Homo sapiens: one gene and its partners. The protein of the gene in region 1 purifies or fractionates together with the protein of each later gene. This does not show direct contact. Each region holds a gene or a part of one and is shown in the gene's direction. Other genes may lie near its edges.

Evidence for each region.
Region 2: the proteins of GAL3ST2 (region 1) and STX16 purify together in Homo sapiens (affinity purification with mass spectrometry; one large-scale study listed by BioGRID and IntAct). This does not show direct contact.
Region 3: the proteins of GAL3ST2 (region 1) and MANEA purify together in Homo sapiens (affinity purification with mass spectrometry; one large-scale study listed by BioGRID and IntAct). This does not show direct contact.

The regions. Positions count from the first base shown.
Region 1 is NC_000002.12:241,775,421-241,779,702, forward strand, and holds the start of GAL3ST2 (galactose-3-O-sulfotransferase 2), read left to right. Parts: upstream 1-1,401; 5' UTR 1,402-1,535; coding exon 1,536-1,564; intron 1,565-4,282. UniProt on the Homo sapiens protein: Transfers a sulfate group to the hydroxyl group at C3 of non-reducing beta-galactosyl residues. Acts both on type 1 (Gal-beta-1,3-GlcNAc) and type 2 (Gal-beta-1,4-GlcNAc) chains with similar efficiency.
Region 2 is NC_000020.11:58,661,278-58,664,927, forward strand, and holds part of STX16 (syntaxin-16), read left to right. Parts: intron 1-3,650. UniProt on the Homo sapiens protein: SNARE involved in vesicular transport from the late endosomes to the trans-Golgi network.
Region 3 is NC_000006.12:95,604,898-95,608,547, forward strand, and holds part of MANEA (glycoprotein endo-alpha-1,2-mannosidase), read left to right. Parts: coding exon 1-6; intron 7-850; coding exon 851-1,508; 3' UTR 1,509-3,650.

The DNA.
Region 1 (4,282 bases):
ACATGGCTCGGCCAAGGTGATTCTGGGGTAAGGACCCATGAGGCGCCATCTTCTTTGTTCCTAGGCTGAGCCTGTGGTGCCCTGGGCAGGGTGGGTGGAGGAAGCAGCAGGGAGGCTCCTTAATGGTGGAGTGAACACCCACACGGATGTCTCTGGATAGTGGAATGCGGAGGATGCAGGGCACGCCGGTGGAGAGCTGCCCAGCCGTGCCAGCAAGGCCCCGGCATCCCTCCCACCTGCCGTTAGCACCGGGAGCTGCTCTGCTGGCCCCTCCCACAGACTCGGGCTCTGGAGGTCTACAGAGCAGCTGGGAGGGTGATGCCTAGGCGGGGGCGGAGATGCCAGGCCCCTGGGCTGCAGGTGGAGGTAAATGGGGAAGGGAGGCTGGGGGTCTCTGGGCCTTTCGCCAGCAGCCGCCCAGCCCAGGGTCTCTGATGCCAGGGAGGTCCATGTGTGCTCGGCCCCTCCTCTGAGCCCCTCAGCCCAGCCTTGTTTCTGCCTCCATGGCTATGGGGCCTGCACCCATCCGAGCCAGGCACTGGCTAGGGCAGGGAGGCTGCCTTGGGCTGGGGCCAGTCCCGGAATCCAGGCTCAGCTGGCACCGACAGGGAGGGGTTGTGGGAAGGTGACCAGCCGTGTGGAGAGCTTGGCGTCGGAGGGCATGGTGGGCACCAGCGCTGGTGGGATGTGGCGAGGGTGGTGGTGACTCATGGCGCGTGGCCCGTAGCTCTGAGGAGCATTTGCGTTTTCCTGTGGATTCACTGTAGCGCCTGGTCACAATGTTGCAGCATTTCCCTGGCTGCTTGTCTCGGAATTAATATCTATTTCCTGAAAAGAGAAATGAACTTTCTTGCAGTAAAATCTAAACAAATATTTATATTTATTTTCCACCTCCATGTCCTGTTTCAAACTTATTGTCCAGCCCAAGATTTTAAAAAGTCAGATTTTCTTTTGGTGTGAAGCAGGCTCAGGAGGAGGAGGAGGGGGAGGAAGAAGAGGAGGACGAGGAGGGGGAGGAAGCTGGGAATTGGGCTGAGCTTTCCTCGCTCATCCTTGCAGTGGCCACAGGGCCCTCTGCCCTCTCGTCTGCGTCAGGTCCTGAGTTCTGAGTCCAGAAGCCGTCGCTGTGCTGTTGGAGCCCACCAAGCCCGTCCCTTGTGGGGACAGCTCCCTCCAAGCCCCCCGGGGGGATGGACACTGAGGGTGGGGCAGGGGAGCAGGGGTAGGCCCCAGGCAGGTCCTCCCAGGGCCTGGGGAACACAGGGGCCCATCGAGGGCTCCCCAGACTCCCTCAGCCAGTTCTTCCCGAGAACAGAACAGTTAAAACCAAGCCCTCCGATGGAGGTGCGGGGAGAGGGCGTGGCTCCCGTCCCAGGAGGCAGGTGAGCTTCTGGGGATTCCAGTTCACCTGCCCCACAGCCGCACCCTGCCTGTGCCTGCACCCTGGGGAGCCCAGAGCCGGCAGGGGCCGAGGCGGTGGGACCTCGGGGGAGCTCAAGCCTCGACTGTCCCCTCGCTGGAGGCCAGAGGCCAAGATGATGTCCATGCTGGGCGGCTTGCAGAGGTAAGGGGGGCAGTTGGACCCCCCAGGTGGACAAAGCGCTTCATCTGTGGCTATTCTGAGAGACGGACAGGAGTGGGTTTTGTTTGTCTTTCGAAGGAAGTGACTTGGATTTGGAGGCTGTTCCTACTCAGGCTTCCCTGAATTCACCTGTCTTGGCTTCGTTTCGGAAGTAGGGGGCCCCTCCTGCCCAGGCCTGGTGCTGCTTCTGGGTGTTTGGGGGTTCTGGGATGTGGGGCCCAGTGAGAAAGCTGCCCCCCAACACTGTGGCGTGGAGACGCTCGAGTGTCCGCGTGACGGCTGGGGAGGGTGAGACCTGCTGGGCTTGGGACCTCCCAGCCTCGGTCTGCGGCTCAGGCCCATGGCTGGGCCGTGTTGGTGGGAGTGCCAGGCGCTTGCTGGAGCGTTGGTCATGCGTGCGCTTCAGGATGCTCCCGGGGCTCTGGGTGGTGACGGGGAGGCTGGGCTCTGCTGTGCTGTCTCCCTTCTGTAAACAGAGGGGAGGTGGATTTCTTCCCAGTTAGGTTTGGAGGGGTGGTGGGTGTGGCTAAGGATGCCTTGCGTTTTCCTTCTCCTGCTCGCCATCCTGTTTGGGGTGATTCCAGGGCAGTTTGAAGCCGTCCCTGCGCTGGCAGGTCCCTGCCTCCCCGGGGCGTGTGCCGCCATGAATTCAGTTACCTTCCTTTAAGGGGTGACTTAAGACCAGCTGCCAGGACACTGGCTGAGGACACCCCGTCACAGGGCTGAGAGGTGTGGGGCCGGCTGCCTGGCCTGGACCATCCTAGATGCCCCCTCCTGTGGACATTGTGACCATATTGTGAAGAAGAGGCCCAGGGGCTGGGGAATCAGGCTCACTTGATTAGCTGGTGGCCAAGCTAGGGCCCCCCTGGCTGCCCTGGGGCCCCCCGAGGTCGGCCAGGGCGGGTGTGCCTGACCCCAGCTGAGACTCTGTGGGTGAGACATGGGAGGCATTGCAGCCGAAGGCCCTCGGGGAGCCCAGGGCACAGGCTCCTCAGCTGCTGGTCTCACTGCCTGGCAGGATGGGCTCACTGCAGCAGCCCATGCAGGCTGCACGTCCCACACTAAGGCCAGGGAGCTTTGGCTCCGGGTGTCCCAGGCTTCATTGAGCACGGCCTGCAGGAGGGAAGCCCCGAGTCACTTCCCCACAGCCCTGGACAGCAGCCTTCCTGAGCCTCGCATTTATTTTCCTGGGGTTGGGCAAGTGTGGGAGGCTCACCTCGCTTGTGTCAGCTTGCTTGGCCTGTGGGTGGAACAAATCAACAGCCCTGGGGACAAAGGGGACGGTAGTGTGTGGTGCCACTGGCACCCACCTGGGTGATTCAAGGAGCTGCCCAGAACAGAGGAGAGACTTTGCCTGCGCTAGTGAGGCCTAGTCTTGACCACCGGCCACGGGAAATCCAGGCCGCCGGGCAAAGTGCTCACTTGGATGCTTGCTGATCTTTTGTTTTGCTGGTGATGATTCAGGCACAAAACTCTGAGCTATGGCACTTGGGGGTGTTGCCTCCCTGGGGTGTGGCCAGGTATCTTTGGGGAGGAGGGGACTCATGATCAGAGAAGATGTGGTACAGAGCCCATGGGGGTCACCATGCCGGTGTGAACCCCCAAAATCTGAGACAGGTCTCGGTTAATTTAGAAAGCTTACTTTGCCAAGGGTGAGGACGTGCACCCATGACCCAGCCTCAGGAGGTCCTGATGACGTGTGCCCAAGGTGGTCAGGGCACAGTCTGGCTTTATACATTGTAGGGAGACATGAGACATCAGTCCGCATATGCAGGACGAACATTGGTTCGGTCTGGAGAGGCAGGACGGCTCGAAGCAAAGGCAGGAAGACTCCAAGTGGGGAGGGGACTTCCAGGTCACAGGCAGGTAAGAGACAAATGGTTGCATTCTTTTGAGTTTCTGATGAGCCTCTCCAAAGGAGGCAGTCAGATACGCATTTATCTCAGTGAGCAGAGGGGAGACTTTGAATACAATGGGGGGCAGGTTTGCCCTGAGCAGTTCCCAGCTAGACTCCTCCCTTTAGCTTGTAGTGATCTGGGGGCTCAAGATCTTTTCCTTTCACATTTCCCCCCATTTTCTCTTTAAAATCTTGGAGAAAGCTCTCCAAGATTTTAGAAGAAAATGAGTCTCTGGTCCCAGGTTTTGTCTTATCTCTCATGGCTAGGATAGTTTATTTCTAGACGGGCAGGTCCTGAGTTACTAGGAAAGCTCATTTTTTTTTTTTTTTTTTTTTTTTTTTTTTTTTTTTTGAGACGGAGTCTCGCTCTCTCTCCCAGTCTGGAGTGCAGTGGAGCGATCTCGGCTCACTGCAAGCTCCGCCTCCCGGGTTCACGCCATTCTCCCGCCTCAGCCTCCCGAGTAGCTGGGACTACAGGCGCCCGCCACCTCGCCCAGCTAATTTTTTGTATTTTTAGTAGAGATGGGGTTTCACCGTGTTAGCCAGGATGGTCTCCATCTCCTGACCTCGTGATCCGCCGGCCTTGGCCTCCCAAAGTGCTGGGATTACAGGCGTGAGCCACCGTGCCCGGCCCTGGGAAGTTCATTTTTTAGCAGGTTGTGAAGTGTCAAGTCCTAGGAAGACAAAATAGGAGAAGGAAGGAGAAAAACAACAACAAAGAAAAGAGCAATCCTGGAAAATCGATACAGGCCACACTACTCTGAAGTCCAAACATCAGTAGGCAAACATGAAAGTGGCTTATG
Region 2 (3,650 bases), on another chromosome or scaffold:
CTGTCTGAACCGATTTCCAGTCTTTCCTACTTCCTTTTTCAGGCAGCAAGTTCCAGAAACTGGCTACTCACTGCATGAACTTGGCAGGCCCTTTTGCTTTTCTTATGTTTCACCTCTAAGGGCTTAAAAGGGAGTCTTCACGCTCTGTGATCAGAGGCCCTGCGTAGAGAGCACTATCTCCTCCACGCTCACCCCAGTGCTATTAGAAATGCAGGTTGCTGCCTCATCGTGGGTGCCCACGGCCACCTCATTTCCTTGTGCGTTTCACTTGCCTCTTTTGCTCTTTTGTGCAGTGCCGTTATCTTTTTCATGAAGTGTGGCTTCCACAATTGTCTGTGACGTACATTTTATTTACCTCGTGCATTCATTCCACTCGTTTCTTGTCGGATCACTCAGCTGGTTGTGATTGTGCGTTCAGGACTCTGAAGTGCCAGGTACTGGCCTAGGAGCAGGGGGTGTGGTTGGGGACAGTGTCCAGAGGCTTCTTTGAAGCTGACGCAGGGCCTCACATTGGCATCTCTGGAAATAGTGAACACCCAGCTCCAGAGTGGATTAGATGTTAGCCACCCCTTTATAGGGGAGGCCTGAGCAAATGTCCCTGAGTGAATATCACTTGCATCTCCCAGAGTAAAGGCATCTGACGGCCTCACTTCAGAGGCTTCCTGCAGTCTGTCCATGTTTGATTGTCATTCTCCTCCTCTAGCCTGAGTACCCTGGAGATGTCACTTTTCCTTCTCAGAAAACACTAAGTAAGGTGTTCCCTGAGGAGGACCCGAGCCCACCATTGGTTCTCTTACCCAGGGAAGTGTCTGGCCCTCTCCTTTGTTCTCTGTCTTTAATCTACTTCCTGTCTTATGACAAAGAAATCTCTGGGAGTTTTTAAACTCAAGAATTATTTTAAAAGTCACAAGATAACAAATGTCAAGCCCCCAAACCACACTGCCTGGAGGACTGCACATCTGGGAGTGCCTGGGCCGGGCCCCAGTGTCCATGTTGGTGAAATAGGGAGCGGCGCTCCTCTGAAGGATTGTTCTTGGGACTGGCATGGGCCAGGTCAGTAGCAGTGCTCAGTACAGTGCTCACAGAAGGCAGGGAGGGACGGATTGCTCCCCTCCTTTTTCTTCCCCTCAGAGTATGTATGTTAGTTGAGAAAAAAGGAAAATCAGTGAAACTTAACAACAGTATCAGGGTGATGTGATTCTCAAGTGTTTTTATCTCTATATTTTTTGTATCATTTATTTTTATTTTTTTGAGACAGAGTCTCACTCTGTTGCCCAGGCTAGAGTGCAGTGGCGCGATCTCGGCTCACTGCAACCTCTGCCTCCCCAGTTCAAGCGATTCTCCTGCCTCAGCCTCCTGAGTAGCTGGGACTACAGGTGCGTGCCACCATGCGTGGCTATTTTATTTATTTATTTATTTTTGTATTTTTTAGTAGAGACGGAGTTTTGACATGTTGCTCAGGCTGGTCTCGAACTCCTGAGCTCAAGTGATCCGCCTGCCTTGGCCTCCCAAGTGCTAGGATTACAGGCGTGAGCCACTGCGTCATCCTATGCCATTTTAAAAGTATTTATTTTGACCATTTACTAATTTCATAATTAGAAAAGGTAAGCATTATTTTAAAATTATTACGGGTTTAGAAAAATGTAGTGCTGACATCACTTTTTTCTTTTATCCACATGCTTATTCACTTCTCCAACAACTCGGATTTCTTAAGCCTAATTGTCTATTAGCGAAGTAGTCTGACTTCATCATACAGGCTCCCAGAGTTTCACGTGGAAGTGTGAGTTGCCAGTCTGTTGATTTTCAGTGTCCCTTCTGGGCTTTCCAAGTGTTCATTGCCATAGACAGTCCAGAATTATCGGTATTGTTCTCATTACCAATGCGTTACGGCTAAACTTAGTTGATTTTTTTAGATGGGGAGGAGGTGTAGCTGACTTTTCCAATCTCCACAGAGGCTTTGCTATTTCTGTAATCTTAGTCTACACTAAATCAGCCTTCAGGGAAAGGCAGGGTTTTTAAGAGTAGGAGGGCCATAGATTTGGAACAGCAAGATTTATAAGAGAGAATGTGTATGTTCTTTCCATAGATGGAGAACTTGTCCATACTGGCTGGTACTCTTTAAATGGACAAATGTCAACATTTGAAGTGGATCAAAGGCAAAAGATACCTTTAGTGAGACTGGCAGGAAAGCCATTGGGTGTGCTGTTTTGAACATCTGTTGGATTTTTTCTGCATTTCTCTCAGGAAGGATGGCTCTAGGTTAGGGTAGCGGACCCCAGTAGTTCTTGGAGAGAGGAACTACATATCAAAGAGGCAAGAATTCTTAATTCTCTTAAGTACAATTTTTATTTAAAAAATATGGATTTTTTTTTTTTTACTTCAGAAGCACAAATTTATTTATTTATTTATGTATTGAGATGGAGTCTCGCTCTGTCTTAATAAAAGGCTGGAGCACATTGGCACGATCTTGGCTCACTGCAACTTCTGCCTTCCGGGTTCAAGTGATTCTCCTGCCTCAGCTTCCCGAGTAGCTGGGATTACAGGTGCATGCCACCATGCCCGGCTAATTTTTGTATTTTCAGTAGAGACGGGGTTTCACCGTGCTGGCTAGGCTGGTCTTGAACTCCCGACCTCAGGCAATCCGCCTGCCTCAGCCTCCCAAAGTGCTGGGATTACCGGCGTGAGCCACCATGGCCAGCTGCACAAACCAACATCATATATTTGGAGGGGGCACCATGTTGAAATTCAGTAAGGGTAAGGAGAGAGAATTAGAAACCTGGCCATTTTTTAAGATCTGTATGAAATAGGATGGCAGCTTGAAAATTGATACATATGCTGGATCTTCAACAATAAGAAGACATGTTTTTAAATGGAAAGTGAGGTTTCTGAAATTAAAAGGGTGCTTATGTTGCACATAAAATTTGTTTATGTCCATATTTGTTCCCATTTCAAATAGTTGACGCTTATCTTCAACAATTGTTTTCCCTTCCCAAAACATACTGTCTTGTTTTTTAATAGTACATACTGTGATACACATTACAAATCCATACTGCTAAAAGAAATGACACATTTCTTCTCAATAGGGTGGTGTTTCTTTATTATAATGAACTATAGCTATAGACTGTATCATAAAAGAGACAAATTATTCGCTATTTAAAGTTTTCATTCCCAAAGAATCAGCTGTTCTATCTTACTGGCAAAACTCTGATACAATGTGTGGGAAAGCTAGTACCAGCTGAGCAGGCTGGCATCCATGCTGTTCATGTAGGAATCTCTAATTAGCAAGCTTCCTTAGGACCCTTAACAAAGAGTGTGTTCTCCCCACTTTTGATTTACATCTAATTTGAGGGGAACACATGCATAAAATCAAGTACTGCTTCAAAGAGTTGTATTCACTTCAACCGACTTTTCATATGTGGTTTATAATTTGTTGTTTTGGATAAAATGATACTAATCCCAATGCAGGTAAATTTAGATAGATACCATCTCTCTGTCTTCTTTAGTTTAATGTGTATTTGTAAACAGTAAAAACAGTACAAAATAAGATCATGAGCTTAAAAACTCTAAAATCACTATAAATAATTACTGATTGAAATGTGTAATAATAAAATATAGTGGATTCGATAATAAACTGGTGTAGTGGAAATTCT
Region 3 (3,650 bases), on another chromosome or scaffold:
AGACAAGTGAGTTTCTTCAATATTTATAAATATTGTTATATTATCCAGTGATAATTATTGTTTTAAGAATAGTACATTAAATTATATTTGAGATTTGAATGATTTATGATTATTCCATTTTTAATAAAATTAAATTGTTATTGTAATGAATGTCACCATCATTTCGAAGAACATTGCTGAAGTTTCTTATAATTCACTTTCTTTTTGGAAGATTGCTGTTTTTACTGTTTTACAGGTTTATAGGCTATTTATGATTTCTGTAGTTTTGATATTTTAAAATGACATTATTTTCTAAACCTTCAGAATATAGCTTTATCTTTTTAAAAAGAAGGTTCAGATTATTAAAAGTGAACTACTTCTTTTAACACAGTAGACCCAGAGCTGATATTTTCATTTATATCTAGCCTGATCAAAAAGAATTTATTAATACAGTTTTCATTTTTTGAAAGAATTTTACTGATAATAGTCTGTGACAGATGCCATAGTCTTACAAAGAAACTTGTCAGCAACAGTAGAACATTTATCACTGATAGATAAAAAAGCAGTTTAGGTATTATGTAGAGTATTATTTATAATGTAGAGACATAGGCTTTTTATGGCATTAGTCATCATTTGTAAACCTCAATATGAGATGGTTAATACTTGTTTGGTAATGCATCCAGTATCTCATTTTCTAATGTGTAAAATTAAAAATGCATTTTTAATTATTACACTTACACAACTGATTCCCCTAAGAAATGGAGCAGTGTGCTCAAACTGCACTGACTCCTTCATTTTCAGTAAACAGTTTTTGTCTGTGGCAAATTAGTTGTGAATATTCATTTCACTTTTATATATGCTTATTTTCTAGATATGGAAATCATCCGGCCTTTTACAGGTACAAGACGAAGACTGGCAATGCTCTTCCTATGTTTTATGTCTATGATTCCTATATTACCAAGCCTGAAAAATGGGCCAATCTGTTAACCACCTCAGGGTCTCGGAGTATTCGCAATTCTCCTTATGATGGACTGTTTATTGCCCTTCTGGTAGAAGAAAAACATAAGTATGATATTCTTCAAAGTGGTTTTGATGGAATTTACACATATTTTGCCACAAATGGCTTTACTTATGGCTCATCACATCAGAATTGGGCTAGCCTAAAATTATTTTGTGATAAATACAACTTAATATTTATCCCAAGTGTGGGCCCAGGATACATAGATACCAGCATCCGTCCATGGAACACGCAAAACACTCGGAACCGAATCAATGGGAAGTATTATGAAATTGGTCTGAGTGCCGCACTTCAGACACGCCCCAGCTTAATTTCTATCACCTCTTTTAATGAGTGGCATGAAGGAACTCAGATTGAAAAAGCTGTTCCCAAAAGAACCAGTAATACAGTGTACCTAGATTACCGTCCTCATAAACCAGGTCTTTACCTAGAACTGACTCGCAAGTGGTCTGAAAAATACAGTAAGGAAAGAGCAACTTATGCATTAGATCGCCAGCTGCCTGTTTCTTAATGCATTGATTAAAGTTTAATAGTTATCAAAATCACCTAATTTTTAAAAATAGCTTTCGTTTTGAGTTCTGGAAAGAAAACTGTCAAAATCAGTATATACTATTAGTTATATTTAAAAATATTTTTTTAAATTCTTTACAGATAATATTATACTTGTTACCCTTCACAATACCACATGAGAAAATATCTGAGACAAAATGTATACAAATATATTCCTTATGGCATAATTTATTGCATTTCTGACTGAAATCAAAATTCTGATTTGATGGCAATTGAATTTTCATTTTACAATAGATAAATGCTTGTGCTACCTAAAGCACTTAGCACACAGTTAAATTATATTTACATCCTAGACCCAAATAAATAGGATTGTGTGTATATTTGGGATATCTATTGAAGAAAAAAAGAAAACCCCTTAAAGATAATGTACATGCTTCATGTCATGTCTTTAAAATAATTTAATCAACTTTATTGTCTTAGTATTTAGACTCTGGATAACTCTACAATAATGAGGAAATTCTTAAGAATAACAAAATCACTGTACCTTCCTCTCAATTTTGCTGTGAACCTGAAATGGCTTTAAATTAATACTCTTATTTTTTATTTAATTTAATTACATAAATTAAACCTTACCATGACCAAATTGTGTTAGGACGGCCTGCTATCTACAGCACAGTGTGTCATTTGCAGATTTGTGGTTACCTATACCACGCTAGGTGTTTTGACATGTTTAGTGTTTCTGCTTTACAGTGCTGAATTCCATATTTTAGAAGCTATGAAAGTCCTTTTATGAAAAAGTTACTGATTGCTTCTCAGTTATTAGGAAAACAGTTGTTTCACAATTATTATGTAGATATGATGCCCAAATATCATTTTTAGTATATCTTGTCGATCTTTAAGTTGTTACTATTGTGTTATTCATGTCTTTAAATCAGATACCAAATATTTTTTAGGAAAGAAAAATGTTATTACTGTCATTAGGTTGTCTTTTAATACTTTAAGTTATTTTGACGAAAAGTAATAGAGAAAATTTACTTAGCATTTTAGATTCTAGAGACATGGAAATGAAAATTATTTTATGTCTAGAGTAGGTCCTGAAGTTTGGCTTTACATTAAGTTTAGCACTGTATCAGAATGAAGAAACTAATATTTTACATAAAAACTAATACTTTCAATTTTTTATATAGTAATATCCCCATTTTGTAAATGTTAGACTTTTATCATACCTGTAAGTTAAAATACTTGTTATCAATAACTTGTCATGTTGTGACAAATTGATCACTTGTGTACGAAAAATAAATCTCCTTAAAAACTAAATAAAATGCACTGTATTCTTACAGTTAATGTTTATAACTATAGTAAAAAATTAATATATATCCTATTACATAAATGTTATTTCTTAGGTGTTCCATTAAGAAGAGCAATAGAATAATGCTAAAAAATAATGCCTATAAATCTTCAGAGTATAAAGACATCCATTCAGAAACAAAAATTAGCACTAAATTTTTTATAAAATAGACCAGATGACAAAATTTATTTTATTTTTAAACAGTGGTTTTGACACAAATTATGTTATTGAAAAGCATTATTAATGTTTAATTTATTTAAAATTTTGGAATTTGCCATTTCTCAGAGAATGATCAGGCCTTAGGAAATTAATACAGTAGTAGTAATCATTTTCTAGGGGAAAATAAAAGAATAAATCACTATACTGATATTTTGATACAAGCAAGCACTTACATGGTAATCACTATATAGATCCAACCTGTGGATTTTCTTCTTATGTCCATTTAACTAGAATATATTATTTTAGGTATAATTTACAAATGTCACACCTAATAATCTTTTATAATATACCATATTTCATTAAAGTTTTGTTAGAGAAGTATCTACCACAGAGGAGTTTTTGTCATTGTGTACGTTGTGTATTTGAACCCACCATGACAGAAAGTAAATTTTAGGAAATAGTTATGAGATTAAGGGAAAATCTATAAAAACAAGGTTAGCATATTCTCAACACAGATACCACCACTTTCTTTTTCCCATTATAGACATGGTGAATCCACACAGCATACTTCATCTCTGAGCTTTGTTGTGATTCCTCAACACATTACCCTAACCAGCCAGCAGTAACAGATTTCAG